Homo sapiens: one gene and its partners. The protein of the gene in region 4 interacts with the protein of the main gene of each other region in a pairwise test. Each region holds a gene or a part of one and is shown on either strand. Other genes may lie near its edges.

Region 1 (8,440 bases), on a different chromosome or scaffold from region 4:
AACTTTTTTTAAAAAATTTCCTTTGAACATTATTTTTCATTATTATAAACATAGACTTTCTAATTTTACTTTTAAAACAATATAGAAAATTTCTGTATTTCTAATTTTTTCCATAGTTATAATTTTAGTGATTTGATGATATTCCATCATGTTGACATACCACAGTTTATGTATTATTCACTTAGAATAAACTTTAAGGAATTTTAGTTTCTTTTTATTTGGAAAATGAGGATTAGAACAAGTTTTTCCTCTGAGTTAATTTCAACAGGTTAACTAGATTAATAAATATACCATTTCTGTAATTCCTGGTACTTTGTCCTAGTTTCCTTCAAATCATTTGTGTCAGTTTGTAGTATCAACAACAGTGTATTACTTTGCCATTTTTGTCACTAATATTGAGTATTTAAATCTTTTCGTTTGTTTGTTTTTATTTTTTTAATTGACAAAGGTATATATATTTTTCATTTACAACATGTTTTGAAATATGTATATATTGTAATGGTCAAATGAGCTAATTAGCATATTCATTATCTCACATACTTTTTGTGGTGAGAATACCTAAAATCCACTCTTTTTGTAATTTTTAAAAATAACAATATATTGATATTAACTATAGTCTATGTTGTACAATAGATCTCTTGGTCAGTTTTTTAAAAGCTGTAAACAGAAGTTTAATAGAAAGCAAATCTATCCACCATCTCATTACCTTAAGGAATATTTGTTGACTGCCTGTTTGGTGACTATGTTAGAAATACTGCTAAATGTTTGCAAGCTATTTGTTTAATTTTATACCAGTCTTAGTAGGTAGGTTTCATTATTGTTCCCATTTCCAGGTAAGAAAACTGAGGCCTGAGTGCTTCAGTTTATGTCCTGATAAGTAGGCCAAGTCAGGATTTGAACACAGGTCTGATTCCAGAGCCTTGTTTTTAATCCTGCTTCAAAAAAATCGTATGTATTCTTTTGGTATTATTCATACAAATGTTTCATATTTTTATAGACTTCAAATAATTATTTTAGTAGCTATATTCTTTCATTGTGATAAAATACTTACTTTATTGAGTCATTCCATATTCCATAGTGAATATTTGGGCTCTCTAGGTTTTTATTAATTACATGATGCTTCATTGATAACTTTTCTGCATATATACTTTTGCTTTTGTGGAATTATTTACTTCAAGTAAATTCCAAGAAGGGAATATATAGATTATTTTGGGGTCTTGCATATGCCTTGTAACAGATGTACCAGTTTTATTATAATATCCCTTTGAATTTTGTAGGGTAGCCTTAGAAAAGTGTTTGGATTGATTGCTACAAAGAGGAAAATAAACATCTTCTTTCTTGATTATATGTTAATATAATTTAATGTTTCTGAGTTTTCTCTGGCTGTATCACCCTTATTAGTGACTCTACGTTAACATTTTAAAATTACTTAACCATTCTATTTTTTTCTCCCTGTGGCACATCCATATTATGCAAGATTATACTTTTAAAAATCAAGATGCAAAATAAGTCTAGCATGACTTAAAAATGTATGCATAAAAGCTAAAGACTGAAATTATCTGTTTGTTCCTGGACAATTATATAATTTTTAAATTTCTACTTTAATTTTTAAGGGCTACAAGGCAGGTTATTTTATAATCAAATTTTTTTAACACAGCTGATAAACATTTAATATGGAAATAAAATACACAAAATCACAGCTAAAGGATAAGTTGTAAAGAAACAAAAATTTCTCTGTCTCTCTACTTCTCTAATGAAAATGATATTTTTAACAGGTAAAATAACATAGCTTCCCAATTTTCTATTGTCACTTTTTCTTTTTAAACAGAGATGCTGTTCAGTTAAATGTGATTGCAACGCGACAGCTTATTCTCCTTGCACAACAAATGAAGAATCTGGAAGTGTTCATGCATGTATCAACAGCATATGCCTACTGTAATCGCAAGCATATTGATGAAGTAGTCTATCCACCACCTGTGGATCCCAAGAAGCTGATTGATTCTTTAGAGTATGTTTGTTTGAAATTTATATACATTTACTTTGATCCCAAAAGAGGCCAAGGCGGGCGGATCATGAGGTCAGGAGTTCAAGAGCAGCCAGGCCAACATAGTGAAACCCCATCTCACTAAAAATACGAAAAAAATTAGCCAGGCATGGTGGCAGGCGCCTGTAGTCCCAGCTACTTAGGAGGCTGAAGCAGGAGAGTTGCTTGAATCCCAGAGGTTGCAGTGAGCCGAGATGGCGCCACTGCACTCCAACCTGGGCAACACAGTGAAACTCTGTCTCAAAAAAACAAAAAACAAAAAAAAAACCTTTGGATTCAAGTCCCTCCCTCTTCTCCTCACCCCACCCCATATACATGTGCGCGCGCGCGCGCACACACACACACACACACACACACACACATACATTTATCTCTTTTCTTCAAAAATTTTTGCATATCCCCTGCATTCTTATTGTATAGATTAATATCTAAATAAATGTTAATGAAGTCAATGTGTAGTTTTCACTTTTGACCAAGTATAATGGTAATATTTGGAGGAAGGCTCCTGAACATCTTATTAGTGATATTAGGGGCTCTCTTTTTCAGGGAATCAATCTTAGCAACCAAGAAGTACCAATGGAGACCCATGACTGCCTGTTTAATAGCAAGGCTCTAATTTATCAAAGGATTCCCCTCACCACCCCCCAGCCATGGAGTATATATATAGAGGGGCCTTTAATTATTAGAGAATCAGAGGAATCATAGTCTTTTAATTCATAACCTTACTTTTTATCTTTCTGAGGACTGAGATCCTGTCAGCAATTGTTACATGAAAATTATTTGTGAGTATTGATAGATAGGGATTAAATGAGGGAGTATATACCATGACCTTATTCTCATTTGCTGCAGCTCAGGCTTTCTCATCAAACAGACAAGGTTCAGACAAGAAAAAGAGAGATCTTTTTTACTTTTACAATTATATAAACATTCCAGTATCCACCATATTTTCATGTTTGTTAATCCTTATATAATATCTTTGAATTTTTTCCTCCTTTATTCTTCCCTCTTTTAGTCTTCTTTCTTTCCAGAGATTCTATCCACTTTGACTGCTTAGTTAACATCTGCTGCTTTCTCCTAAAATAAGCACAGTCTTTTCTTTAAGGCTTTCCTGCTAATATGAGGAAACAGATAGATTGTAAAAAAAATGAGAAATTACCAAGACATTTTCATTGTAATTCCCTAATTTCTATTTTCTCACTCATTTTCTTAGATGGTCCCAAATATCTACTTCATTTTCTTCATAGATCAATAAACAGAAATATTTAATATCTGCGGGAAAAGTTGAGTGTGAAAGTTAATGGAGCATTTTACTTTTTCTCTTACTAACAATATATACAAACATTTGAGAAACTGAAAAAGAACTTGTAAGCTAATGCTGTATCTCCTTTCCTTGCTGCAAAGAAATCTAGCTAACATAATTTTAAGATAACTCATGGGTTTGTTCTGTAAACTCGTTCTAGTAATAAGGCTTACTAGCTAAAGTTTCTCCTGAGTTTAGGCAGGTTTTTTTTTCCTCATGTATCAACTATCCCTTTCATTTTTCAAATCTCATCTCCATGGTGGAATTTTTCCTAAGTTGGGTAGCAATTTCCCTTCAATTTAATTGATGTTCTTTTCCTTTCATATACAAAAAGTACTTCCATATACAGAAGAAAATTTTATCTTGATAATCTCTGTTTTATGCTTTCTTATCAATTAGTATGGGTATCATTAGAGTATGACAATATACTGAGTCTACTTGCATACACAGCATTATTGACAAGAAGTAAAAACAAGTACATAATGTATTAGAATCAGAAGTTTAGGAAAAACCATGGACACCACCTAGTATATCGCCCTCCTTTTACAGATGAACAGAGTAGACCATTTCTTCAAAGAGAACTGGAGGAATTTTTTTGACTTCATAGTAGGTTGCTAATTGAATTTTTATAGCATGCTTCAATTTATTTTTATTGTTCATCATAGCATTTGTTAATCTCATTAGAGCATATGATTTGCAGTGCTGCACCTTAAATACTAGGCCTTTTATGCCTTTTGTGTTCATTATAAATGTATGTTAATTATAACTGTATATAATTAACATGTTACTTCATTAGGTGGTTATATACAGATCTGTATTTCCTAACCTGCAAACTTCCAGAAGGTTTCAGATATATTTTGGAATTTATTTGGACTTTAGAGAGGGTATATAATTTATGTACTGTGTAATAAGAAAAAACTTTAACTTGATCTGGGTTAGTATCCCTGATCAAATACATGTAAAATATATGAATGTTTAAGTTGTATCAAAAAAAAGACCATAAGTCAGTGTAGATCAGATTTTGCTATCCACTGTATGATTTATGAAAGAACTCTTAGTTTTCAGATCTTTTTGGATACAGAAATTGCAGATAAGGGATTGTGGACCTGTAGTTGATGTTTAAGAAAAATAAGACTAAGTTCCATTTTTCAGTAAAAGTTGTCAAATGATTTGAGTCAGAACAGCAGATATGTTTGAATGTGCGAAGTTCAATTAAGTAGCTTTTTATTTTATAGTAAAATATCTGGAAATATATTTGTATGCAATTTCTTTACCAGGTGGATGGATGATGGCCTAGTAAATGATATCACGCCAAAATTGATAGGAGACAGACCTAATACATACATATACACAAAAGCATTGGCAGAATATGTTGTACAACAAGAAGGAGCAAAACTAAATGTGGCAATTGTAAGGCCATCGATTGTTGGTGCCAGTTGGAAAGAACCTTTTCCAGTAAGTTGTTAGAAACCTTTATAAATAACTGGAGTTGAGAATTTTAAGTTGTAACTCTGTATAAAAAGAGCTGGCAGTTCTTTAAGAACAGGTATTATTTACTAAAGGTGAATTACCATGGCAAAGCTGTTTTGTGTTCATAGAGTTAATTTTATTGGTACTTTCATTTCTATAATGTGACGCTGGGTATATAGAAATGTAGATCAACATTTAAAAAATCCTAAGTGAAAATTAAAAGCTGTGACATTTTCTTAAGTCAGAGGAGATTTGGTTTGTTTCTTAGTAGCAAAAAGAGGCAGACCTTCCAGGAGGTAGACCCCTTCCTCTGTAGATCACAAAGTAAAAAAGGTACAGGGTGTTAGGGTATTTGTGAATTCCTGGAATGAGAGAAAGCAGAAATATAAACCAGTTGGGTCAATTGATTTAGGCAAAACCTAGGTCTGTGTAATGGTAGTAAGTGATAGCATCTGTTGTTGCTTTGACAATTATTCTATTTTTCTCTGTTTTATTCATAATTTTGAGGAGGATTTACCATTTTCCCTAATCTCAGGCTATTGAATTAGTAAATAGCATAAAATCAAACTTGAACAAGCTTAATTTTGTAAAAATATTCAACAATATAAACCCTCTTTTATAAATTTCTCTTTGCAGAGAGTTAATGGAAGAGTAGTAGGTAGCCCTTTGAAAATGATTTTACTCAATTATTTTTGATCCCAGAGGAAGACTGCTTCTGTTTGGGACTGGTAGAAATAGTCTGGCCTGAATCTAGTCTGTTTTTTAGTTTTTAGAAGACAGCTACCAAGTATATATTTGGGGTTGTAGAGTTCAAATAATAAATCTCTAGCTTCATAATGTTTCTAAGCTTCTCTCCCTTTTAAAATTTTTGGTATTAGGGATGGATTGATAACTTTAATGGACCAAGTGGTCTCTTTATTGCGGTAAGTAAACCTTTTGATTTATTTAATATTCTATACATTTTTCTGCTTTTTGTATATCTTTAAATATATATACACTATGGCTTATATATCTTAAGGTGTTGTTTTTAATTTCAACAAAGGCAGGGAAAGGAATTCTTCGAACAATACGTGCCTCCAACAATGCCCTTGCAGATCTTGTTCCTGTAGATGTAGTTGTCAACATGAGTCTTGCGGCAGCCTGGTATTCCGGAGTTAATAGGTATATGAGGTGACAATGTCGCTTATTAAATATATAGTAACTGAAAAGGGAAGACATAGCTTTTGAGTAATGTTAATTAATCCCTCTATCCAGATATTGCCATACCAATATTTAGGCTGTATCACTGCCAACTCCAAGAGTTGGTATTATCACAGACAATAGCAAGTGCTCCCATCAGTAGTAATGAAGAATTAATGTTAATGCTCATGTATTACTTACAGGATAGACAAGTTCACTTAAAAATGAAAAAAAAAAAAATACCCTCCCCTAAGCATGATTTTTTAATCCAAACTAAAACTTGTTGAATATATAAAGAGCTGAAATTCACAGAATATGGTTTACATATATTAAACATGGTACACCAGAGCAGCTTTAATCAGCCCATGAACATCTTTCCTTTAAAAAATAATAGTAGCATTTACAGGTAACACTTAAACTTTAAACTTCCCAATAACTTTTTTTTTCTAGGTAGTAAACTACCCTTATTTTTGATAATCAGTATTTTCTGTCCTAAAAAAAGAGAGATAGGATTATATGAATATGTTGTTTCTGGCAAAAGGAAACTTAGTCCATAATTTTTTTTCAGCTAGATCCTCTGAAAATGAGACAAGAAGAGCTGAGGTCATTTGTTGTTTTCCTCGTGTTTAAAAATAGACATTCCTGCTAATATAAGGAGGAAAAATGTGAAAGAAAAAAGTCTGTATTTTTTAAAATAAGTTATTATTTTTGGTAGGGGAAGAAGAAAGGGTAGTTGTAAATAGTCATTAAAGTAAAAACTAATCCTTTAAGGATAATTAAAAAAAAATAGTATAGAAAAGGTGCCCATCATCCTCATGTCTTCTTGAATACTATGTAGGACTTAGATTGGATATGTTTGGCCTCTTATTATGATTAATTGGTTTCATCTTTGTCTTTGCAGACCAAGAAACATCATGGTGTATAATTGTACAACAGGCAGCACTAATCCTTTCCACTGGGGTGAAGTTGGTATGATTTTACCTGTGTTTTTGAATGTTAGAATAAATCTTAAAGAACCAAGTTCCCTGAAGTTTTAATGTTAGAATACCTATGAGGCATTAAGGCCACTGAGTTACCAATTTGTTCTTAATTGTCGTCTTAGAAGTATTATCTACCAATACTACCTTGTGGTCCTTAATAATGTTTCACAAATTTAAAAATATACTGCTGTCTATTCTTACCCACCCACCCTACCCTTGTCTAAGCCTTGCTGTTTTTCTCCTGCCATCTGCAGTAGCCCTCGTAGATACCTATGGCATGGGAACAGTGCTTTTTTTCTCCCTTGTGAGCACCCTCAGTCTTGATGTTGCCTATCCATAGGCAGTATCACTTCTTACAAGAGGTGGTATATCAAGTGGTACCCAGAGTAATAAATGAAGGAGTTAGGAAGTAGGATACAGTTTGCCAGAATATTTTCTATTAACCTGTATTAATCTATTTAAATTCACAGATTCACAGCAGATATACATGTTCCTAGTTCTATAGGAATAGCATAACTTAAATAGGAATAGTTAAAACCCATTGAAATTGAGTCAATTTTAAATTGTTGGTTGATGAGTTCAAATTTAAAGTAAAATTTTTTTGGCATTGATTTAGTGATAGGTCTTATTTAACCTCTAATTGATTAATTACCCCTGCAGAACAATTTTGATTTCAATGTAGATTTTTTATGACATTTGTCCTAGGATTTTTCTGTGGCATTTTTATTTCAGTGTAAAATTGACCATTAGAGCATATAAGAAAAAGATAAAATCTAAGGTGATTTTAACTTTATGATAATTATTTTCAGTATTCTTTTAAGAATATTTAAACATTTTTAATGAGTTAGGTTTTTTTGTAATCTTTTATTGTGTTATAAAGTTTAGTAAAAGCTGAAATTGAGCGTTATATTTTAGTGACTATCTCAATATACATTTCTAGTAAAGTATTAATATAGATGATACTAGGTTTGATTATGTTGACATTACATAGCCTATATAAATTACAACAGAAGTTAATTTTGGGTTGTTTTAAGCCTGTTAATGTATGTTAATTTGAGCATCTTAAGCAAAGGATGATTATTTTCCTTTTCTTTTTTAAGTAAGTACAGTAATAAGAGTCTGGAAAGAGGAACAGAAAGGAAGAAGCTATCGTGAGAGGTGAAATATAGAAAGTGACACTGTAAACTGACATAGGTAAAACATTAAAAGGATTTTAAGAGTGAATTTTAGCAAAAATTCATTCATCTAAAATTCATAAATAGCGGCAGTTACAAAACCACTTGAGTTTAGCAGTCTAATAACCATATTCTCTTAGCTACTAGAGAGTAGAAAAGTTTGTTTTTTAAATGTACGAACTCTGACATCTTTGGTAAAATATTTTGCATTATAAAAACATGATTTTTTTTTTTCAAAACTTCATTACATGGTTATTATCAAAGCTGTTACACAACTTTTCTTCTTCAGAGT
Region 2 (5,396 bases), on a different chromosome or scaffold from region 4:
TTTTGTGTCTTTTAAACTTTCATTTTCTTATTAACTCCTTATTTTACCAGAGTTTAGGTCTGTGACTAATGGAGAACAAAACAAAACAAAACAAAACTGGTCATTCCCCACAGGGAGTTTGGGAAACCGGATGTCAGATTCCAGCCACTGGGGAGTTGGATTTCACCCTCTGTAGTCACTTTCAAGTCTAAAATCCCACGAAGAACTGAAGTTGGGCAGGGAAATTGAAAGTAAAAGTGAGGAATGGAGAAGTTTCTGTGCCACATTTGACGTGAAACTGAAAGTGATCATGTATGTGTCCCTCCTGCTCCCATATGATCTGGCACAGCGCCATTCAGTTTTACAGAAGCTGAAGCTCAGTGCAGTAGCCTGGCTTGCCAGAATGCACTCTTTCTTAACGGCTCACATTTCCATCCACAGCCCAGGTCTCTGCCCTCCCAGTTCAATCCCTCACCCCAGTCCGTTATTTTTAAGGCATATAAAGGAAACCAGAGACAGAATCAAGTCAAAGCTGTTTTATTATCATTCACATTATTTCATAGAAAAAGGAATATAGCAAACGGTCACGGTCAGGGTTGTACATAAAAAATCCAGGTTTGTGGAAGTCGCGTTCTTTACATCTGGGAGCGGGGCTGTCCCAGCATCAGGCGCAGCAGCTGCACTTGTCCGACGCCCCTTTGCAGATGCAGCCCTGGGCACACTTGGCACAGCCCACAGGGCAGCAGGAGCAGCAGCCTGGGGGCAGACAGGAGGCGGCAGAGATGAGTACTAGCGACACCGGGAATAAGGATTCCTGCTCTCCCTGATAAGGATCACTGAGGAGGCAACAATTTCCGCGCAATGGGGCATCCCCAGACTGCTTTAATTCCCCTGAGGATGGTGGAGAGGGGACAGGCTGGAGGACAGGGAAGGGGTAGAGGAAAGAGAGGATCCCACTTACTTTTCTTGCAGGAGGTGCATTTGCACTCTTTGCATTTGCAGGAGCCGGCGCAGGTGCAGGAGTCACCTGCAAGGAGAAAAGACAGAGGTGAGAACCGTCCCTGGATACCTGAACAAGGGACGGCGTACTAAGAGCCCGGGGCCGAGTTCCTCAGTCCACAACCGATTCCTGGGAACTTGAGCAAGCCATTAACTCAGATCTCCTTAACGGTAAAAAGGGGGCTCCGAATAACCTAGAATGGAGAGAAAGATACCCCAAAACTCTTTGGGAAGGAGCAACTCCTGTCCTGAAATTGAGTGACCAGAGAAAGAAAGAGGGGTCAGAAATTGCTTCTCTAGCGCTACAGTCTACACTGGGCATCCCCAGCCTCTTACCGGCGGCGCAGGAGCAGTTGGGATCCATGGCGAGCTGAAGAGGCGGCTAGAGTCGGGACAGGTTGCACGCGGGTTCGCTGGGACTTGGAGGAGGCGTGGTGGAGTGCAGCGCGGCAAGCAGTGTTTATAGCTAGAAAGAGCCGGGACGAGTGCAAAAGCCCCGCCCCGGCCGGGCGCTGCCTGCACACGCCCCGCGCTGAGTCACTTGCGGCTCCAGGCGAAACACCCGGCCGCGCGCACTGGGCCGGGCGCACCCGGCTCTGCACACGGGCCGCGGGCGGTCAGTTCCCTGAAGGCGGCCCACTTGCGCCTCGGGGACGCCTCGGCGCGGAAGGGGCTGGGTGCAGCGGGAGGACACAGTGTACCGGGTGCTGGGTGCCCACGCCGTGCGCCTCCGCCGTGTGCACAGCTCCCCTCCCTCCTGTCCTGTACTCGAACCTGAGCCGTTAGCGCGCGGGTGAAAGCGGGACTTGGGAATGCTGCTTGCATTCCCAAACCGGTTGGAAGTGCAGACAGGTTACAACTCTGTAGCAGCCAAGGCTTAATAATTGTGCAGCATCACAGTAAACCCGTGGGGTGGTTACTGATGACGTATCCGTTGCATGTTGAGTACTTTTAGCGTGTAACAGGGACTGTAGGAAGTGTGTTGTGTGTGAGATGTCACTTAATTCTGTAGCAACCCATAAGATAAGGACTCTCCAGTATTCTCATTGTAGAGAGGAGAAACTGCAGGTCCAGAGAAGTTAATTTGTCCAGAGTCACACAGCCAGTGAGTGGCAGAGCAGGGTGAATGCGACCAGGCCCCAGCAGATGCTAACGGCCCTCTAACATAGAGACACCAAGGAGGAAGAGTAAGGAGAAGAAGCCACAAGCTTGGTCCTCAGGAAGCTCAGGGGCTGGGGGAACAGAGAGGAGGAGACCCCATCCAGCCTGGGAGGAGGTGGGCCATTGCCTTGGGCCTGAGGGTCAGAAGGTGTTTGCCAGGCAGGGAGTGGGAAGGATTTGTGTTCTAGCCTGGGAGGGAGGAACTAGCGGGAACACTGGAATCGCCCTGAGACATTTGGAAGGGAAAAACCCCACAAGAATATTCTTCCCCTGTGGAGGCTGAGGGGAAGAGCCCAGGTGGCGTCCACATTCCTGTCTGGAGAGGCACATCCTGCCTCCCTGCCTGCGCGTGTCTGGCGCTGTGTAAGGGCCTTAGATCGTCAACCTTGGAAGGCCCGAAGTGTGTCATGCTAGGAGTCAGGAAGTGGTTACTGGAAGCTTCCTGGCAGGCTTAGGGAATGCCGATTGCCACAGTGAAAGTTTAGTGAGGTGGTGGGCGGGGGAGGACAGGCTGTCCTTGCAGCCCTTACTGTAAGTTCCTGTGGAAATGTCTTTCTAGCTCAGCCGAATCGTCACTTCCTCTGGGGACCCTGTCCTGACCCCCATGACCGTGGCTGCCTGTGGAAGGTGCTGGTAAACATCCTGTTCTTTCCCCTCCTGGCGCTTTCCGTGCCTGTGGTATGTATAAACTGCGGGGACTCTTGGATTGGTGTCTCTGCCCCTCCTCACCAACCCCTGACCACTGGAAATGCCAAGGGCAGTCATTGTCTGCCTCTGGAATTGTGTCTTCAGCTTCCAGCACCGGGCCAAGTTTGCAGTAGACGCTTAATAAATATTTGTCAAATGAATTCATGGGGGTAATGGCCTGGACTGCTCTTCCCTTCCCAGCCCCCACCTTGTATGAAGGCCGACTACAAAATGAAAGTAAACACCTCTTGACCACCCTGGAACCTGCGTGCTCACTCTTGTAAAAACACCGCACAGGGCAGGGGGGCGAGCTCTCAGATGGACTAAATTTCAGTGGTCACTCGGCCACTCACTTACTCAGTGACCTTGGGGCAATTACATGCCTGGACTCTTCTGATCCCTGGTTTACTCATCTGTCAAATGACTGGGTTGTACTAGAATTTATATCCAAACATCCTCTGATTTTAGAGCCAAGATCTTTTGAAATCTCATGATGTCTGGCAGCTCTGTGGATCGAGAGCTCTCTGGGCAGTGGACCAATTTTGTTGTTGTTATTTATGTATGCACAGTATTATATACCAAATCCCTGGTTGCTAATAACTCAGATGGTCACCTATGCACTCAAGGCAAACAATCCAACTCTGTGAAGAAACAGAAGGGCTTATTTTGCCCTCAAAAGCATTGGTTCTAGCCCTAAAGCATTGGTTCTAGCCCTGGGTTTGTGCCAGCCATGTTGGCGGTAAAACTTGCTTGTGGGCCTGAGCTGTCTCTTTTGAATCACTTTGACTCTGAGGGGAGAGAAGGATAATGACTCAGGGAAGGTGGAGCAGGCCACAGGCCTAGTCTGTTCATCTCCATGCCCCCAGAAGCTTCACTGTGCTTGGGACAGAGGTGAAGAGGGAGGACCCATGTGCATGTTTGCATCCCTGACTTGGCAGAGGATGAGGGAGTGAAACCAAGCGATATTAGATAAGGAAAAACATCCCCCTGAATATCTGTTGTGAGTCATCAATGTGAAGTGATGACGTGACCCTGGGCTGCATTAAGAGAGGTATGCCATGTAGAATGAGAGAGGTTATGTTTTTCATTCTCCTTTTAGCTGCAGGGGTGGATATATATAGATCTGCTGCCCAGCCATCCACTTGTCCTTCCCCTGTGATGATATCCTTGGTTTTCCTTTGAAGAACTACCCCTCCTTATTACCAGTCCATATGGTTTTGATGGCGTATGTCCCATCTGTGAGCTCCTAGGCCATTCCACCTACCTAGTCACAGTAATTGGCTCTGATTGGGCCACACAGCCACCAACCAAAGAGAATCAGTGATACTTTTGCTGGGAATGCTGGGAGAATGGCAGATAGTCTTTCCATCTGGACTTGTACCTGAGAGAATGTGAAGCTGAGTGAGTTTCTAAAGCTTTTTGGCTCCGTGAGAAGAGCCCAAAAATAAAATAATCACAAAGGAAATGGAGCCTGACAATATCTTGGAACACCTGGATCCAGCCATGCCTGAAGCCATTATGAGCCAATCATTTCCTTTTTTGCTTAAATTATTCCAGATAGAGTCCTAACTGGCATAGTTGGGCAGAACCCCCCTCTGCCCTGAAGGCTGTGTTCATTGTTGGGCTCCCATTGTCCAGAAGACAGCTGATCACAGGGGTCCTAAGGCCCAAAACCCTATCATGTGAGCATCAGCTGAGAGAGGTAGGCAGGTTCAATCTGGAAGTGAACAGTTACCTTCAAATATTTGGCAATGGTTGCCCCAGTTATCTGTAGCTATGCAACCAATTACCCACAATTTAGGAGCTTAAAACAATGACCATCTTATTGTCTTTCCTGGATTCGTGGGTCTGGAGTTGGAGCAGTGCTCACTTGGGCGATTCTTTTGTTTCATTAGCTGAGGTCACTTGGTGCTGTTCGGCTGGTGGATGGGCTGGTCTGGAGAATCTAAGATGGCTTCAGTCACACATCTGGCACTTTGGCAGGGATGGCTGGAGGCTGGGCTCAGCTGGAACTGTTGACCAGAGCTCTACATGTGGCTTCTTCAGCATGGTGGCCTCAGGGCAATTAGAGTCAGGTCATACAGTTGAGAGTTTCAAGAGATGGAAGTGGTAGCTGCAAGTCTCTTAAGCCCTGGACCCTGAAACTAGCACAGGTCGCTTGCACCATATTCTATTGGTCAAGCAGTGACAGAACCTGCCCAGATTCAAGAGGAGGGGAACAAGACCCCCTGTCTTGAAGGGAGGAGTCAACAAATTTCAAGCATGTCTAATCTGCCATAGTAGTCATGGGGAATAATATTGAGCACCTGCTGTAATTCAAGATTTGTGCTAAGAACACTATGAGTTTATCTTAAAGCCTAACATAGCCCTACAAGGCAGGTGCTGTTATCTCCATTTTACAGATGATGCCCTGAAGAGTTATGGGACCTGTTCAGGATAACGCAGCTTGTAAGTGGCAGAGCTAGGATTTGAACTCATACCTACATGTTTATACCATGTTGAAAAGAGGAAATTAGGCTTGCTTTCTGTGGTCCTAAGGGCAGAATCAGGACAATCGCAGTGGGTGGGGT
Region 3 (8,376 bases), on a different chromosome or scaffold from region 4:
CAGATAAATGGATGAAGAAAATGGGAAATATACATACAATGGAATATTATTCAGCCTTAGAAAGAAGAAAGTCCTGCCATTTGTGACAACGTGGATGAACCCAGAAGACATTATGCCAGGTGAAATAAGCCAGTCACAAAAGGACAGACACTGCATGATTCCACTTACATGAGGTATCTAAAATAGCCAGACTCACAGAAGCAAAGAATAGTGGTTGCCAGAGGCTGGGGGGAGGGAGAAATGGAGAATTGTTCTTCAATGAGTATAAAATTTCTGTTATGCAAGATGAATAAGTTCTAGAGATCTGCTGTACAATATGCCCATAGTTAACAATACTATATTGTGCACTTAAAAATCTGTTAAGAGGACAGATTTCTTGTTCAATGTTCTTACTACTTAATAAAAAAGCACACATACAAAAGAACACAAGGAAATTTTTGGAGGTAATGCATATGTTTATTACCTTAGTTGTAATGCTGATATCAAGGGTATATGCGTATGTCTAAACTCATCAAGATGTATACATTAAATATGTGCAATTATTGTATATCAATTATACCTCAATAAAGCTGAGAAAGTATTTTAATATGAAGCAGATTTTTAGCCTTCATATTTCATTTCCACAAGAATGATAATAACTCATGATCACTGAACATTTCTTGGCTACCAGCTAGTGTGCTAAGCACCTTATATTTCGTATTTAAATTAAATTAATGCTGACCTACGGTAGACCACATTTCACAGATAAAAATGTTATATGAGCTTGGGCACAGTGGCTCATGCCTGTAATCCCAGCACATTGGGAGGCCGAGGTGGGTGGATCACCTGAGGTCAGCAGTTCGTGACCAGCCAGGCCAACATGGTGAAACCTCGTCTCTACTAAAAATACAAAAAATTAGCTGGGCATGGTGGTGGATGCCTGTAATCTCAGCTACTCGACAGCCTGAGACAGAAGACTCACTTGAACCCAGGAGGTGAAGGTTGCAGTGAGCCAAGACTCTGTCTCTCTCTCTCTCTCTCTCTCTCTCTCTCTCTATATATATATATATAATGTGTATATATATAAAACATATGTATATATACACACATATATACATATAGAAAACATACTATATATACACATATATAAAATATATACACATACATATATACATATATAACATATATGTATATATGTTATGTATGTATGTATATGTTATATATGTATATATGTTATATATGTATGTATATATACACATATATAAAATATGTGTATATATAATATATAAAATATACTATATATACATGTATATATAAAATATATATACATTTATACATATATACATATATAACATATATACATATATAAAATGTATATATACATATATATGCATATATACATACATATATACATATATATAAAATATATGTGTATGTGTATATATATATAAAATATATGTATTTATATAAAGTGAAAACATGGAGGCCAGGTGCAGTGGCTCATGCCTGTAATCCCAACACTTTGGGAGGCCAAGGTGGGCAGATCGCTTGAGGCTAGGAGTTACAGACCAGCCTGCCCAACATGGTGAAACCCTGTCTCTACTAAAAATACAAAAATTATCTGGGTATGGCGGCGCGTGCCCTTAGTCCCAGCTACTCAGGAGGCTGAGGCATGAGAATTGCAGGAACCTGGGAAGCGGAGGTTGCAGTGAGCCAAGATCGTGCCACTGCATTCCAGCCTGGATGACAGAGTGAGACTCCGTCTCAAAAAACTTTAAAAAAAAAAACTACATGAAGATTATATAGTGGCTCATTCAATGTCATATGACCAGTGAGTATTACAGAGGGGATTTAAACAGCTGTGCTCTCAACCACTTTACTAACATATTCTGCCAGATCTTGTTGCTCTAAATTTTTCATTGTAACTTTTTCTATGGCCTATGTCTCTTCATGTGTCTCACATCTTTTGTCACTTTGAGATTTTTTTTTATTTTGCTGTACTCCAGACACAAGTATTTTCTTATAACTGACTCTCTGATTCTTCTTCATACAGGTATGGTCTTGGCCAACATAACATGGTTTCCATCAGCTATGGTAATTTCCTTATATCTATAATCACTGTCAGAAACTCATTCATACATTCATACTAATTTCCAGATTTCATTGTAATAGAAAATTTTTTGTAGGATATATTAGTATTACATTTACCAACTTTCCCAGTAACATACATCCCATAAAATCTGACAAAAAACTGTTTATTAGCTGAAAAAATGAAACCAACTCCAATTGATTACAATCATTATTACAATATGAATACACACTGTCTCATGCAAAGTGGGAAACAAGATTGGAAAGAGGAACTGAAATGTTCAATTGACTGTCTAGTTACAGAGGGTGAACTTTATGACAGCCTTAGAGATCCTTACATAGTTTTTGAGTGGGGCAGTGAAATGCCAAAACCAGTATTTTAGGAAGATAAGTCTAGTGTTGGTGTGCAGGATATTGGAGGAGAAATAAACTACCAGATAAACATCTGGAAGTCAGTAAGCCAGAATGGAGTGTGACATTTAAAAAAGGAAGAAGCAACAGTGTGTATGATATATTGGATATTTGGCTCAAAAGCAAAGCAGAACATAAGAATCCTACCAAAACATCATTATTAGTGTGTCATGATCACGCTTATAAACTTTACAAGACACACACATACACACTATTTGCCAGTTTTTTAGCCAACTAGGAAGCTCGTTCCTATGGATTCAGCATCAACTTCCACAGAGAAAATGTCCTCCATCAGGTCCCTCCTCTACCTCCTTGGAGCTTATGAACCTAGCTGCCAGCACTCCTCCTCCTCCAGCACACACACACACACACACACACACACACACACACACACAGTTCTTGTGGTCTCATATTTCATGTAGTTTCTCCTACCAAAAGGACAATCAACTCATTCATTCAGCACCCAATAAATGGCAGCTGCTGCATCTTCACCATCTCACCAATCTTTAAGACAAGCTCAGGCTGGGCGTGGTGGCTCACGCCTGTAATCCCAGCACTTTGGGATGCCAACACAGGAGGATCACCTGAGGTCGGTAGTTTCAGACCAACCTGGCCAACATGGGGAAACCCTGTCTCTACTAAAAATACAAAAAAAGTTAGCCGGGCATGGTGGCGCAGGCCTGTAATCGTAGCTGCTCAGGAGGCTGAGGCAGTAGAGTCGCCTGAACCCAGGAGGCGGAGGTTGTAGTGAGCTGAGATCACACCACTGCACTCCAGCCTGGGCAACACAGCGAGACTCCGTCTCAAAAAAAAAAAAGACTAGCTTGTGGTCATTAATTATTATCCTTACATAACAGAAGAAGGAACTGGGGCTCAAAAGAGATTAAGGGACTGCATCAAGCACCAGAGACAGCATGAAAAATAATACTTTTCATTTCAATAACATTTTGCTGTTTGCAAAACACATTCACATTCTTCATTTCTTTGCATCCTAAAGATAATTCTGGTATCAGTGGAACACAGAGGTTTTCAGGAGCAGCTTCTAAGATAACATTATTTGAAGCTGTTAGGCCTACATTTGGGTATGGATACAGCTTTCTCTCAAAATACCAGCTTCCTCAATGTTCCCTGTAATTGACAAGATCCCTACTTCCCTAAAGAGTGTACTGACTCATCCCTTCTTCAGAACTAATCTTAAATGCTTATCCCTACCATATCTGAAATCACAACTTTGGAAAGACAAGGATGGGCAGAGAAGTAACAAAAGCAGCTAATATTCAATCCACATCCAAGATATTATCTGTTCACGGAGAAAAACCAATCTGTGTTGACGTTAACCTTTTAAGTGATCGAAATATGTCTTATTAACCTGGCTTGATACTAATGCCTGGGAATGTGTCTATCTGAAGAGTGAACTGACACTTGTGCCCATTGATTTGGTTCATAGAGAATGTTCTGATTTACGTCCCCGTCCCCACAGATTTTTTTTAAAATGCACCAAACGTTTACCTGAAGTAAACCTGATTCTTGCAAAGGGTCCAACTGTAGTTTCTTACAAAAGCTTGGCTATCTCTAATCAATTATCTCCAGATATGAAAATATCTAGGAAATTCAAGGAAGAAATCACACACATTAATTTTCCATCTAACATTTTAGTGTTTTCTTTTAAACTCTGTGTGTGCTGGGGGGAAGGACAGTAGTCTCTTTTACTACAACAAACAGGAGGGTGAAAACCTGAAGAATGCTAGCATTGGGTCACTAGCTTTATCTGCAGATAAAACCTGCACAAAACAGGTTTTGTTTTGCACCTATTTTACATATATTTTCCCCAGCTCACCAAAATAATTGTCTTCAGAGCCTATGTCCATTATTCCTTTACTGCCTTCCCTGCTATCAAGTTCTCTGAATAAGTACAGGGGCTGCAGTACAATTAAAAATAATGAGACCCTACTGGGCCAATGTCCCTGCACGCAATAAAAGGGTGTGGACTAATTGCAGGAGCAGAGATTCCCGCCCCAACTCCCCCCCGCCACCCCTCGCCATTTTGCTTCACTTTGATTGGTGGATTGGCACTTTAAATAAAGGTTTCTAATCTTCCCTGAATGAGAAGTACAGAGCAAGTCCCACGCACAGTCCTGAAAAAAATTTTAATCTTCTTTTCTTAGAACTATCTTGGTTGGCATCATCAGGCCCTGAGAGCACAGTGCATGTCAGCATCTAAGGTAAAATGGGATTTTATGATTTCCATGTGTTTCCTGTAAATTCTTTTTTTCCTATCTCCTGACAGCTTTTATAAAGAGGATTTATCTTCATTTGTCACCAGTAGCTGAATTATTGCTTGTTGTAATCCATTAGCATGTCCCAGAGATGACATGCCTAACACCCATTCAACTAAGAAAAAAAAAAAGACTTTTATTTATAGATTGTGTTTTTTTTAATGTTTTTGATTATAGTGCCTAATTCTTTTTAATATTAGAAGATGAGTAAATTTCTAGGCTATTCAGATCTCTATTCATGTAAGAATAAAGAGCTTTTTGAATTTATAGAATAAATTTTAAAAGATAATTCATTTTAGGAAGAGGAAAGCTAAATTTGAGACATATTTTCCACTAACATCAAAGAAAATTAAGATAGCCAATTTACTCTCATTTGAAAAGAAAAATTTTGTCATGGTTACGTAGATTACCTAAACATGCAATGATGTACCCTCTATTCCTGCAAATAAAGGTTTGTTATAAAATGACTTAGTTGCATTACATTTCACATGCATTTCAAAATGTGTCCCAAAGGGTAAGCAAAGTATAAACTTCTGTGAATAATACCTTATAGACCAATATTTTACTTAGTGGGAAGGATTTTTAAACTCATAATTCACTTTATGAAATGAAATATATCACAAAGAATATCGATGGAGGTTGTTCCTACATACTTATTTAGGCTGTAGATCCATTTAAAACGTGCTTAGATATTTTTTAATTGCTTGTTAATTTATTTCAGAAACTACTACATACAAATCGGTTGTTTAGTAACATTTAGTTTTTGTTTTTGTTCTTCTAACCTTTATCCCGGTGGTTTTTGTAAGAGCAGAGACTCAGGCTCATTTTCAAAAATTGTCTTTTAACCATTCTGAATAAAAATTCATCTGATTTAATTCTCCAACTTAATTATGTTTTAGATTCCACTTTTCAAAATGAAGGACCTGATACTGATCCTATGCCTCCTGGAAATGAGTTTTGCAGTGCCGGTAAGTCAGTCTTTAGAGTGTGTCCCAGAAAAGGTTATTGATTGTCGAACTCCAAACAACACTGAAGGGATATGGACTGAGAGTCCACGCATAGACTCACTTGATTTAATCCAGTGGTTTAGTCCTATTGAGTCAAAAGCCATAGTTGCTCAGATGTCAGTCTTGCAATCCAAAAGCGGTAAGTGATAGCCGGGTGCGGTGGCTCACGCCTGTAATCCCAGCACTTTGGGAGGTTGAGGCAGGAGGATGACCTGAGGTGAGGAGCTTGAGACCAGCCTAGCCAACATGGCTAAACCCTGTCTCTACTAAAAATACAAAAATTAGCCAGGCGTGGTGGTGGGCACCTGTAATCCCAGCTACTTGGGAGGCTGAGGCAGGAGAATTGCTTGAACCTGGGAGGCGGAGGTTGCAGTAAGCCAAGATTGTGCCACTACACTCCAGCCTGGGTGACGGAGTGAGACTCCATTTAAAAAAAAAAAAAAAAAGCAGTAAGTGAAGTATGATATTTCTACTAAAAAGTTATTTAAAATAGTCCCAAGACAATTTCTAGATCTTATTCCACTCATTCAAAGTTAAAAGCTTAGATAGTCTCCACAATGCATGGCGAAATTTTATTATCAACTTATTGCTATCATTATAAAGTTGAAATGGAAAGAGGAAATTTCTTTGAAAAAAATACATTTTCTTCATTTCAAAAAGAACTATCTCTAAATTTCTATGGTTACAAAACTCAGCTAGATAATTCCATTTAAAGCTAGTAATTAACTAGCAAATTTACCTTGTAAACATGAAATTGTGTGACTGAGAGCTGAAGTTTCATAAATCAAAACATATCATAGTGATGGGGCTAATTGTGTATTACAGTCCCACACCTGATCCATTCTAGTATATATTGAAATGATCTCATACAAACACAATCTTTTGAACACTGAACTACTCCAGCCAACAGCATGCAATTCTGTTATCACAAAAACTTTATTTGGCTGCTATATGCATTTAGCAAATATGTTGAGCAGCTGCCATGCATCCAGTAAATAAGACATGGAAAAATGAAAGTAAATAAGACATGATCTCTTGTCTCCAGTAGCTCACAGTTGGCCTCAAATGAACTTTAGAGTATTTTAATTCCTTGAAAGAAAAGGTTAGCTACTTGGTCTTCTTAAAGTGTTTTAGAGAAAGAGAATGGAAATGGAGAAAGAGGTTGAAAACTGATTATAATGATGAAAACCTTAATTCCACAAATAAAAATAGTCTCTGTTCCATCACGCAAGATGAATTTTAAATGAAAGAAAAATTGAGGGTGCCACCCTAGCTTACCTTTATATGATACTGACGTTGGGATGAGCCTCAGTCATTCACTATCAGTCTAACACATTGGCATTCTTTGAACCTATAATGATCCACACCTGAATCAATTGGGTCCACTCTGAGGAACAGAACAATTGCTTATTATTGCCAACTCATTGCCTGTCAAATCAGATGTTCTTCTCCTATTAATTCTGCATGGGAAATGTATCCCCTATCTGTATACATTCGTGTAAATATTCTTTAAGTCATGACTTAGAGCAGATGGAAAGCAAAGTACACTTTGTTCTGTGGCTCAATCCAGGATGTGTTATTTATGCACTGGCAAATAGTGGGGAAGAAGGTCCTGCTCTCACGATTCCCCCAAATTCTCAACAAGCTAACCACCACATACACACATACATGCACAATCACTCTTCCTGTCTACACAGCTAACCTCTTTCCTACCCAGAGTATTTGCTACACATTTGTAATGCCTTTCCCTCTATTCTTTTTTTTTTTTTTTTTTTTACAGTCTGGCTCTGTTGCCCGGGCTGGAGTGCAATGCTGAGATCTCAGCTCACTGCCACCTCCTCCTTCTGGGTTCAAGCGATTCTCCTGCCTCAGCCTCCCAAGTAGCTGGGATTACAGGCACGTGTCACCACGCCCAGCTAATTTTTGTATTTTTGTAGAGACGCGGTTTCGCCATGTTGGCCAGGCTGATCTCAAATTCCTGACCTCATGATTTGCCCACCTCAGCCTCCCAAAGTTCCGGGATTAGTCTTGAGCCACCATGCCTGGCCCTTTCCCTCTATTCTTGTCCAAAACTGAATTATTTAAAGAAATTCTCACTATGACCCAGAAGGTGGGATTTTACTTACATGAAAAAGGTGGTGGGTGGAAAAAGTAGGGGGTGTAATTCTTTAACTTCTTACTCATAAAGGAAAAATAATACTGATATATTTGGTAAACATTCCCTAAATCCTTGTGGTATAACTGAAGGAAAGACGGCATTACAACCCCTTGGTCTTAGAAAGTGAGAATATCCAAAGAACCAGAGACTCTCAAAATCCAATTTACTCTAATTCCTACTCTTCCATTCGCCATGTTTTCTACCGGTATTTGTGTAAAGTAATAAGGATTGGTTTCAAAAGAAAAATATATTTAACAAAAAAACAAAAAACAAAAGGAAAAGGCTAGGCATGGTGGCTCATGCCTATCATCCTGGCACTTTGGGAGGCCAAGGCAGGAGGATTACTTGAGCTCAGGAGTTTAAGACAAGCCTGGGCAACATAGTGAGACCCCCATCTCTATTTTTTAAAAAAGGAAGCCAGATGCAGTGGCTCACATCTGTAATCCCAGCACTTTGG
Region 4 (8,881 bases):
GCCATGGTGGCCCATGCCTATGGTCCCAACTACTTAGGAGGCTGAGGTGGGAGGATTGCTTGAACCCAGGAGGTCGAGGCTGCAGTGAGCTATGATTGCACCATTACGCTCCTGCCTGGGTGACAGAGCAAGACCCTGTCTTTAAAAAAAAAAAAAAAAAAAAAAAAAAAAAAAAAAAAAAAAAAATCAGACGTTAACAAGGAGCAGTAACAATGAAATTAAAGCACTCTTTGTCAAGAAACAGCCCTGTCATCATTGCCTGTCAACTGAAGCCAAGCCCCGGTAAACACACTACTGAAGGCCAAGGCTGCAAGGACCACTGCTGTCCCCAAGCCTTCAGCTTCTGGACATCTTGGATCTCAAGGACAAGGGACACTTGTGATAGATAGCTCATGAGACACAGAAACATGTGACGCCCAAGCCAGCTCCAGCCTGTAACTCACCCAGGCAACAACCAGGTGCCTGCAATGCCCACGCTGGGCTTTCTGGGCAAAGAGACTCAGTCACACTCTGGAATATCAATGTGCCCCAAGCCTCCCCAACACCTTCTGGTATCCTTTTTAGGAATCCATTGCCCACAGATTCATCCACATCCTCCCTAAACCTAATTATATCCTCTCCCTGTTCTTATCCTGGTGGAAAGAGTTCTGGAAGATTCCACACTTGTTTGAGCCTCTTTTTGTTTGTGCTAAAATGATCCCTTCCAAGTTTCTGCAGATGTCCCCAAGTTCCAACCCACCAAATGCCAGAATGAGGTCCCCATTCGCTCCCGCTCTTCATGGTCCTCACCTCTTGCTTTTTTGCAGGCGTATTTCAGGCTGCAAACACCTTTTTTTTTTTCCTTCCCACACCTTTTAATTACAAAAGTATTACATGAATATACGCTCCTTGCAAAACATCCATTCAATCCCCGTACCGGCCAGTAGGTTCTCTTAGGGACCAAGCACAGTGGCTCATGCCTGTGATCCCAGCACTTCGGGAGGCTGAGGCAGGCAGATCATTTGAGGCCAGGAGTTTGAGACCAGCCTGGCCAACGTTACATTTTTTATTGGCCAACAATACAAAAATTAGCCAGGCGCAGTGGTGGGCACCTGTAATCCCAGCTACTTGGGAGGCTGAGGCAGGAGAATCACTTGAACTTGGGAGGCAGAGGTTGCAGTAAGCCAAGATTGCACCATTGCACTCCAGCCTGGGAGACAGAGCGAGACTCTGTCTCAAAAAAAACACAGAAACCAGAAAAACATTCAGACAAGCCACAAGCAGACAGAGGGAAAATGGGACAGTCCCCTGGCCCAGCCCTAGACTTCTTCATAACATTAACTGCTGAAATGGTTTCCTAGAAACTTTTTTCAGGCATTTATCTACCTAGATGTAGATCTGATTTTCCTTTTCATAAATGAAATCGTGCTGTATATATTATTCTGTAACTTGAAAAGCTTGTTTTTTAGACAATCCTCATATGGAACTGTGCAGAGGCCACACTAGCGTGGGTGTTTGGAGAATGCTCCTCATAGAAGCCCCGGGTAAGTATTTCCAAACAAAATGAGAGAAATAGGATTGCATACAAACTTTTCCAGAGGCACTTTTATGCTTTTCTGGGTCCCGCCCTATTCAGCCATGACTGTATATTTCTTCCCAGCATGAAACATCCCTGTCTCCTTGTTATTAAGGAATTAGCCAGAAATCATCTTGGAGTCCTCTGATTTGGTAAATATCAAGGAGAAAAAAAGAACTAGGAGCTGTCTTTTAGCTTTGATAGGCAGAGCAGTATGCTAGAAAACACCAGATCTGGGCCTGGCGTGGTGGCTCACGCCTGTAATCCCAGCATTTTGGGAGGCCGAGGCAGGAGGATCTCTTGAGGCCAGAAGTTTGAGACCAGCATGTGTAACACAGTGAGATCCCACCTCTACAAAAAATCAAAAAATTAGCCAGTCATGATGGTGTACACCTGTGATCTCAGCTACACAGGAGGCCAAGGTCGGGGGATCACTTGAGCCTGGGAGATCAGGTTTGCAGTGAGCTATGATCGCACCACTGCATTCCAGCCTGGGGAGCAAGCAAGACCCTATATTAAAAAAAAAAAAAAAAGAAAGAAAGCACAAGAGGTCAGTCCTGAGTGGCTCCTAGGCCTAGCAAATCCTGAGCCTCTGTTTCTTCAGCTAAAGGAAAGATACTACTCTAATGTTTTAACCCTAGGGTTGTTAAGGATCAAAAGAAATGGAGATTGGGAGGCCAAGGCGGGAGGATCGCTTGAGCCCAGGAGTTTGCGACAAGCCTGGGCAACAGAGTTGAGATTCTGCCTCTGCAAAAAAAAAAAATTAAAATATAAAAAAGAGACGGAGGGAACAGACACAGGTAGTGCATTCCAGAGCGCTGTCATAGCTGTGTAGGTTGTAGTTATCACTAAATGAGAAAAGCTAAATTCAAGCGAGTTATGCAAACGAGGCGTTTGGCAACTTTTACTTGCATGCTTATGGTTTTCTGGGGAAATTCAAATGCGGGCTCCGGAGCCGCAGCCCTGAGCGTCCCGGGGGTGGCCATGGCGCCACCTGCCGGCCGAGAGGAAGGAGACGCCTGGCGGGTCCCGGCGCCCGGGCCCGGTGACCCTGCGCCCTCTCCAACCCCGCCACGGAGCCACCCGATCCCAGCCGGTTCCACGTCCCGGGGTGGCTGGGGAGTCGCAGCCGAGGATCCTCCGCGGCCTCAGCCCCAAAGACTGGGCGGGAATGACCCCTCTGGTGTCCTGGGGCCGCTGATAGGAGAGGGGTGCCCGGGACGCGAGGCCTTGGCCACCCGAGAACCTGCTCCGCGACACAAAGCCGCAGCCGCGCAGGTGAGCGGCAGAGCCACGTGAGCGGCCGAACGCCCCGGGCAGAGCCCCAGCCCCAGCCACGGCGGTCGGAACCACCTCTACTCGGAGCCCGGAACGAGGGGGCGAAGGTTGGGGAAGCGAAGAAAGGAAGGGACAGGGTGGGCGCGGCCAGAGACCACCGCAGCCCCGGAGCCGGACCCGAACCTTCAGCCCCCGCAACCCCGCAGCCCCGCAGCCCCGCGGCCCCAACCCCCAGCCTCCTCCATCGCTCGTTCCAGCTGCCCCGTCTGCAGCCCCCAACCCCCGCCGCCCCGCGCCCCAGCCCCCAATCGCCCTGCACCCAAGGCCCTTCGGTCTTTCCCCCCGTGACCCCAACCCCCAGCCACCGCCATTTCGTCCCAGTTGCCCCGTGTCCCCTGCCCCTGGCATCCGCCACCCCGCGCCCCCAGGCCCGAATCGCCCCGCACCCCAACCCCCTCCAGCTCTCGTTCCAGCTGCCCGGTGTCTGCAGCCCCCAGTCCCCGCTGCCCTGCGCCCCCAAGTCCCGGATCGCCCCGCTCTCCAGCCCCCAAGCCTCGCTCCAGCCACCCAGTGGCCAGGGCCCCCGCTGTCCGCTCCCTCCCCCCACCCCCCGGCCCCTCGGCCCCGAGCTACTCACCGGCGGCTCGCGTAGCCGCTGCCAGGGGAGCCGGCGCCGGGCTCGGGGTAGCCGTGCTGCTGCAGAGCTGCGGCCGAGAAGGGATAGAGGAAGCCGGTGGCCAGCGCCGACCCGCAGAGGCAGCAACACGCCCAGGGCAGGAGCAGGGCCAGCTTCATCGTGCGCAGCAGCCCGCGGGGACCCGGAGTCCCGGGCACGAGGACCGGCAGGAGCGCACCGGCGCCCGGACCGAACCCGCGGCACCGGCCGGGAGCACAGCGAGAGGAGCGGGGCGAGCGGTCGGAGCCCGGGTGCGAGCTGGAAATGTGTGGGGGGCGCCCACGCCTCTCCGGGGCCGCCTTTTCAAATTCGGCGAGGTGGGCTCTAAGCCGTCAAAGGGGGCGTGGGGCTTTTTTGTTAACCCTCGGCGGTCCGGGGCCGAGGAGGCGGCAGTGGCGGCAGAGCTAGGGTGCGAGCTCCGCAGGAGGTCCCTGGAGCCTAACACCCCGAAAGCCAGACCTCGCGCCCAGGCCCCCGCTACACACCTTAGAACCTTTGAAACCAAACCTTCTTCGGGTCCGCGAATGCTTTCGGAGCGCCCATTCTGTGTCTGCCAATTTCACCTGGACGATGTTGGTGAATCCTCGCCACACTGCCCTCGATGGTCCCATTCAGAAGTGGAAACTGAGGCTGGAGAAAGTTAAGCCAGACAAATGCGAGTCTTCCGATCCTTGTGCAGGGCTCTTTGGATCAAAGCGCTGCGTTCCCGTGAGAAACTGACCAGAGCTTCCCAGGATTCTCCTCCTTCCCCTTTAACCTCCAGCCCCCACCTGCCCCGCTGTCTCTTCCAGGTAAGAAGCTTTGGGAGGGGCGGAAGGGTCAGTTGGGGTGAGAAGTTGTAGCTAGATTGGGAGGCCGAGGTGGGCGGATCACCTGAGGTCAGGAGTTCGAGACCAGCCTGGCCAACATGGTGAAACCTCGTCTCTACTAAAAATACAAAAATTAGCCTAGTGTGGTGGCAGGTGCCTGTAATCTCAACTACAGGCTGGGCTGAGGCAAGCCAATCACTTGAACTCAGGAGGCGGAGGGTGCAGTGAGCCAATATCAGGCCACTGGCCTCCAGCCTGGATGACAAGGTGAGGCTCCATCTCAAAAAAAGAAAAAAGTTGTAGCTAGAATCACAGATTCATGAGACATCCTATCCAGAAAAGGGCTTCAGGAAGATGTAGGACAATCCCACCTTTTATAAACAGAAAAGCAGAGTCCTAGATCCCATGCTGGGCCCAAGGCCAGCCTGGACCCAAGTTTTGGTCTTTTCTATGTTGCAGGATTCCCATAGGGCTTGGACCCTGCTCCAGGCCCAGGTGGGACCAGAAATCCAGCCCGTACTCTACTCGCCCGGGTTAGGAGCATTTTGTTCCTTTTTTTTTTTTTCTTTTTCTTTTTTTTTTTTTTTTGAGTTGGAGTCTCGCTCTGTCACCCAGGCTGGAGTGCAGTGGTGCGATCTCGGCTCACTGCAACCTCTGCCTCCCGGGTTCAAGTGATTCTTCTGCCTCAGCCTCCCGAGTAGCTGGGATTACAGGCAAGCAATACCATTTCGGGTTAATTTTTGTATTTTTAGTAGAGACGGGGTTTCGCCATGTTGGCCAGGCTGGTTTCGAACTCCTGACCTCAGGTGATTCACCCACCTCCGCCTCCCAAAGTGCTGGGATTACAGGTGTGAGCCACCTAGCCCGGCCTGGGAGCTTTTTTCCTAATTCTTCCAAAAGCAACCTAAGGGTGCAGATGCCCTGAGGCTTGCTCTGCCCCTGTGACCAGTTGAAAACTCCTGTCTGTAAAATGCCTACAGGATGGAGAAAAACCATCAAATATGGAAGTGTTTGCTGGACTGGAGCACATTTTGCAAAAGGATTGTAGAGGCCAGTGGCAATGGCTCACTTCAGTAATCCTAATCCTTTGGAAGCCGGGCACAGTAGCTCACGCCTGTAATCCCAGCACTTTGGGAAGTTGAGGTGGGCAGATTACTTGAGGTCAGGAGTTCAAGACCAGCCTGGCTAACATGGTGAAACCCTGTCTCTACTAAAAAAATAGAAAAAATTAGCTGGGCGTAGTGGCATGCACTTGTAATCCCAGCTACTCAGGAGGCTGAGGCAGGGGAATCGCTTGAACCCGGGGTTGCAGTGAGCTGAGATCATGCCACTGCACTCCAGCCTGGGGGACAGAGTGAGACTCCGTCTCAAAAAACAAAACAACAAAGACCTAATGCTTTGGGAGGCTGAGGCGGGAGGATTGCTTAAGGCCAGGAGTTCGAGGCCAGCTTGGACAACATAGTGAGACCCCCCCATCTCTACAAAAAAAAAAAAAAAGCAAAGCGTGGAGGTGTGTGCCTGTAGTCCCAGCTACTCAGGAGTCTGAGGCAGGAGGATTGCTTGAGCCTAAGGGTTCAAGGCTGCAGTGAGCCATGATGGTGCCATGACACTTCAGCCTGGGTTACATACTGAGCCTGTCCTTCTCCCCTCAAAGAAGGATTGTAGGATTGTTGTTAGAAGACGACAGGAAGATGGCCAAGCATGGTGGCTCACGCCTGTAATCCCAGCACTTTGGGAGGCCAAGGCAGGTAAATCACAAGGTCAGGAGCTCGAGACCAGCCTGCCCAACATGGTGAAACCCCGTCTCTACTAAAAATACAAAAATTGGATAACTAGCCCTGCCCCTGCCCCTGCCCCTGCCCCTGCCCCTGCCCCTGCCTCTGCCTCTGCCTCTCCCTCTCCCCTCTCCCCTCTCCCTCTCGGTCTCCCTCTCCCTCTCTTTCCACGGTCTCCCTCTGATGCCGAGCCGAAGCTGGACTGTACTGCCTCTGCCTCTGCCTCTCCCTCTCCCCTCTCCCCTCTCCCCTCTCCTCTCGGTCTCCCTCTCCCTCTCTTTCCACGGTCTCCCTCTGATGCTGAGCCGAAGCTGGACTGTACTGCTGCCATCTCGGCTCACTGCAACCTCCCTGCCTGATTCTCCTGCCTCAGCCTGCCGAGTGCCTGCAATTGCAGGCGCGCGCCACCACGCCTGACTGGTTTTCATACTTTTTTGGTGGAGACGGGGTTTCGCTGTGTTGGCCGGGCTGGTCTCCAGCTCCTAACCGCGAGTGATCCGCCAGCCTTGGCCTCCCGAGGTGCCGGGATTGCAGACGGAGTCTGGTTCACTCAGTGCTCAATGGTGCCCAGGCTGGAGTGCAGTGGCGTGATCTCAGCTCGCTACAACCTCCATCTCCCAGCCGCCTGCCTTGGCCTCCCAAAGTGCCAAGATTGCAGCCTCTGCCCGGCCACCACCCCGTCTGGGAAGTAAGGAGCGTCTCTGCCTGGCTGCCCATCGTCTGGGACGTGAGGAGCCCCTCTGCCTGGCTGCCCAGTCTGGAAAGTGAGGAGCGTCTCTGCCCGGCCGCCATCCCATCTAGGAAGTGAGGAGCGCCTCTTCCCGGCAGCCATCCCATCTGGGAAGTGAGGAGCGTCTCTGCCCGGCCGCCCATCGTCTGAGATGTGGGGAGCGCCTCTGCCCCGCCGCCCCGTCTGGGATGTGAGGAGCGCCTCTACCCGGCGGCGACCCCGTCTGGGAGGTGAGGAGCGTCTCTGCCCAGCCGCCCCGTCTGAGAAGTGAGGAGACCCTCCGCCCAGCATCCGCCCCATCTGAGAAGTGAGGAGCCCCTCCGCCCGGCAGCCGCCCCGTCTGAGAAGTGAGGAGTCCCTCTGCCCGGCAGCCACCCCGTCTGGGAAGTGAGGAGCGTCTCCGCCCGGCAGCCGCCCCGTCCGGGAGGGAGGTGGGGGGGTCAGCCCCCCGGCCCGGCCAGCCGCCCCGTCCGGAGGGAGGTGGGGGGGTCAGCCCATCCGGGAGGGAGGTGGGGGCGGTCACCGCCCGGCTAGCCGCCCCATCCGGGAGGGAGGTGGGGGGGTCAGCCCCCCGCCCGGCCAGCTGCCCCGTCCGGGAGGGAGGTGGGGGGGTCAGCCCCCTGCCCGGCCAGCCACCCCGTCCGGGAGGGAGGTGGGGGTGTCAGCCACGTCGGGAGGAGGTGGGGGGTCAGCCGCCCGGTCCAGCCGCCCCGTCTGGAGGGAGGTGGGGTCAGCCCCCCGCCCGGCCAGCCGCCCCGTCCGGGAGGTGAGGGCGCCTCTGCCCAGCCGCCCCTACTGGGAAGTGAGGAGCCCCTCTGCCAGGCCAGCCACCCCGTCTGGGAGGGAGGTGGGGGGCTCAGCCCCCCGCCCGGCCAGCCGACCCGTCCGGGAGGGAGGTGGGGGGTCAGCCCCCCGCCCGGCCAGCCGCCCCGTCCGGGAGGTGAGGGGCACCTCTGCCCGGCCGCCCCTACTGGGAAGTGAGGAGCCCCTCTGCCCAGCCAGCCGCCCCGTCCGGGAGGGAGGTGGGGGGGTCAGCCCCCCGCCCGGCCAGCCGCCCCGTCCGGGAGGGAGGTGGGGGGGTCAGCCCCCAGCCCGGCCAGCCGCCCTGTCCGGGAGGTGAGGGGCGCCTCTGCCCAGCTGCCCCTACTGGGAAGTGAGGAGCCCCTCTGCCCAGCCAGCCGCCCCGTCCGGGAGGGAGGTGGGGGGGTCAGCCCCCCGCCTGGCCAGCCGCCCCGTCCGGGAGGTGAGGGGCGCCTCTGCCCGGCCACCCCTACTGGGAAGTGAGGAGCCCCTCTGCCCAGCCACCACCTCGTCTGGGAGGTGTACCCAACAGCTCATTGAGAACGGGCCGGGATGACAATGGCGGTTTTGTGGAATAGAAAGGGGGGAAAGGTGGGGAAAAGATTGAGAAATCGGATGGTTGCCGTGTCTGTGTAGAAAGAAGTAGACATGGGAGACTTTTCATTTTGTTCTGTACTAAGATAAATTCTTCTGCCTTGGGATCCTGTTGATCTGTGACCTTACCCCCAACCCTGTGCTCTCTGAAACATGTGCTGTGTCCACTCAGGGTTAAATGGATTAAGGGCGGTGCAAGATGTGCTTTGTTAAACAGATGCTTGAAGGCAGCATGCTCGTTAAGAATCATCACCACTCCCTAATCTCAAGTACCCAGGGACACAAACACTGCGGAAGGCCGCAGGGTCCTCTGCCTAGGAAAACCAGAGACCTTTGTTCACTTGTTTATCTGCCAACCTTCCCTCCACTATTGTCCTATGACCCTGCCAAATCCCCCTCTGCGAGAAACACCCAAGAATGATCAATAAAAAAAATAAAAATTAAAAAAAAAAAAAAAAAAAATACAAAAATTGGCTGGGCGTGGTGGCGGGCGCCTGTAATTCCCAGCTACTCAGGAGGCTGAGGCAGGAGAGTCACTTGGACCTGAAAGGCGGAGGTTGCAGTGAGCCAAGATCTCGCCACTGCACTCCAGAGCAAGACTCTGTCTCAATAAATAAATAAATGGAATGTCCATACTTCCCAAGTCCCAAGTCTCTGTCTTAA

What was found.
Region 1: the proteins of COL26A1 (region 4) and FAR1 interact in binary tests that used the Homo sapiens proteins (3 or more experiments, as listed by UniProt).
Region 2: the proteins of COL26A1 (region 4) and MT2A interact in binary tests that used the Homo sapiens proteins (3 or more experiments, as listed by UniProt).
Region 3: the proteins of COL26A1 (region 4) and AMBN interact in binary tests that used the Homo sapiens proteins (3 or more experiments, as listed by UniProt).

What each region holds. Positions count from the first base shown.
Region 1 is NC_000011.10:13,706,072-13,714,511, forward strand, and holds part of FAR1 (fatty acyl-CoA reductase 1), read left to right. Parts: intron 1-1,828; coding exon 1,829-2,008; intron 2,009-4,621; coding exon 4,622-4,799; intron 4,800-5,692; coding exon 5,693-5,737; intron 5,738-5,856; coding exon 5,857-5,975; coding exon of another isoform or gene 5,976-5,984; intron 5,985-6,894; coding exon 6,895-6,962; intron 6,963-8,073; coding exon of another isoform or gene 8,074-8,131; intron 8,132-8,437; coding exon 8,438-8,440. UniProt on the Homo sapiens protein: Catalyzes the reduction of saturated and unsaturated C16 or C18 fatty acyl-CoA to fatty alcohols. It plays an essential role in the production of ether lipids/plasmalogens which synthesis requires fatty alcohols.
Region 2 is NC_000016.10:56,604,602-56,609,997, reverse strand, and holds MT2A (metallothionein-2), read right to left. Parts: upstream 1,415-5,396; 5' UTR 1,343-1,414; coding exon 1,315-1,342; intron 1,007-1,314; coding exon 941-1,006; intron 736-940; coding exon 644-735; 3' UTR 501-643; downstream 1-500. UniProt on the Homo sapiens protein: Metallothioneins have a high content of cysteine residues that bind various heavy metals; these proteins are transcriptionally regulated by both heavy metals and glucocorticoids.
Region 3 is NC_000004.12:70,587,674-70,596,049, forward strand, and holds the start of AMBN (ameloblastin precursor), read left to right. Parts: upstream 1-4,582; 5' UTR 4,583-4,685; coding exon 4,686-4,700; intron 4,701-5,653; coding exon 5,654-5,722; intron 5,723-8,376. UniProt on the Homo sapiens protein: Involved in the mineralization and structural organization of enamel.
Region 4 is NC_000007.14:101,357,780-101,366,660, reverse strand, and holds the start of COL26A1 (collagen alpha-1(XXVI) chain isoform 1 precursor), read right to left. Parts: upstream 3,787-8,881; 5' UTR 3,629-3,786; coding exon 3,471-3,628; intron 1-3,470.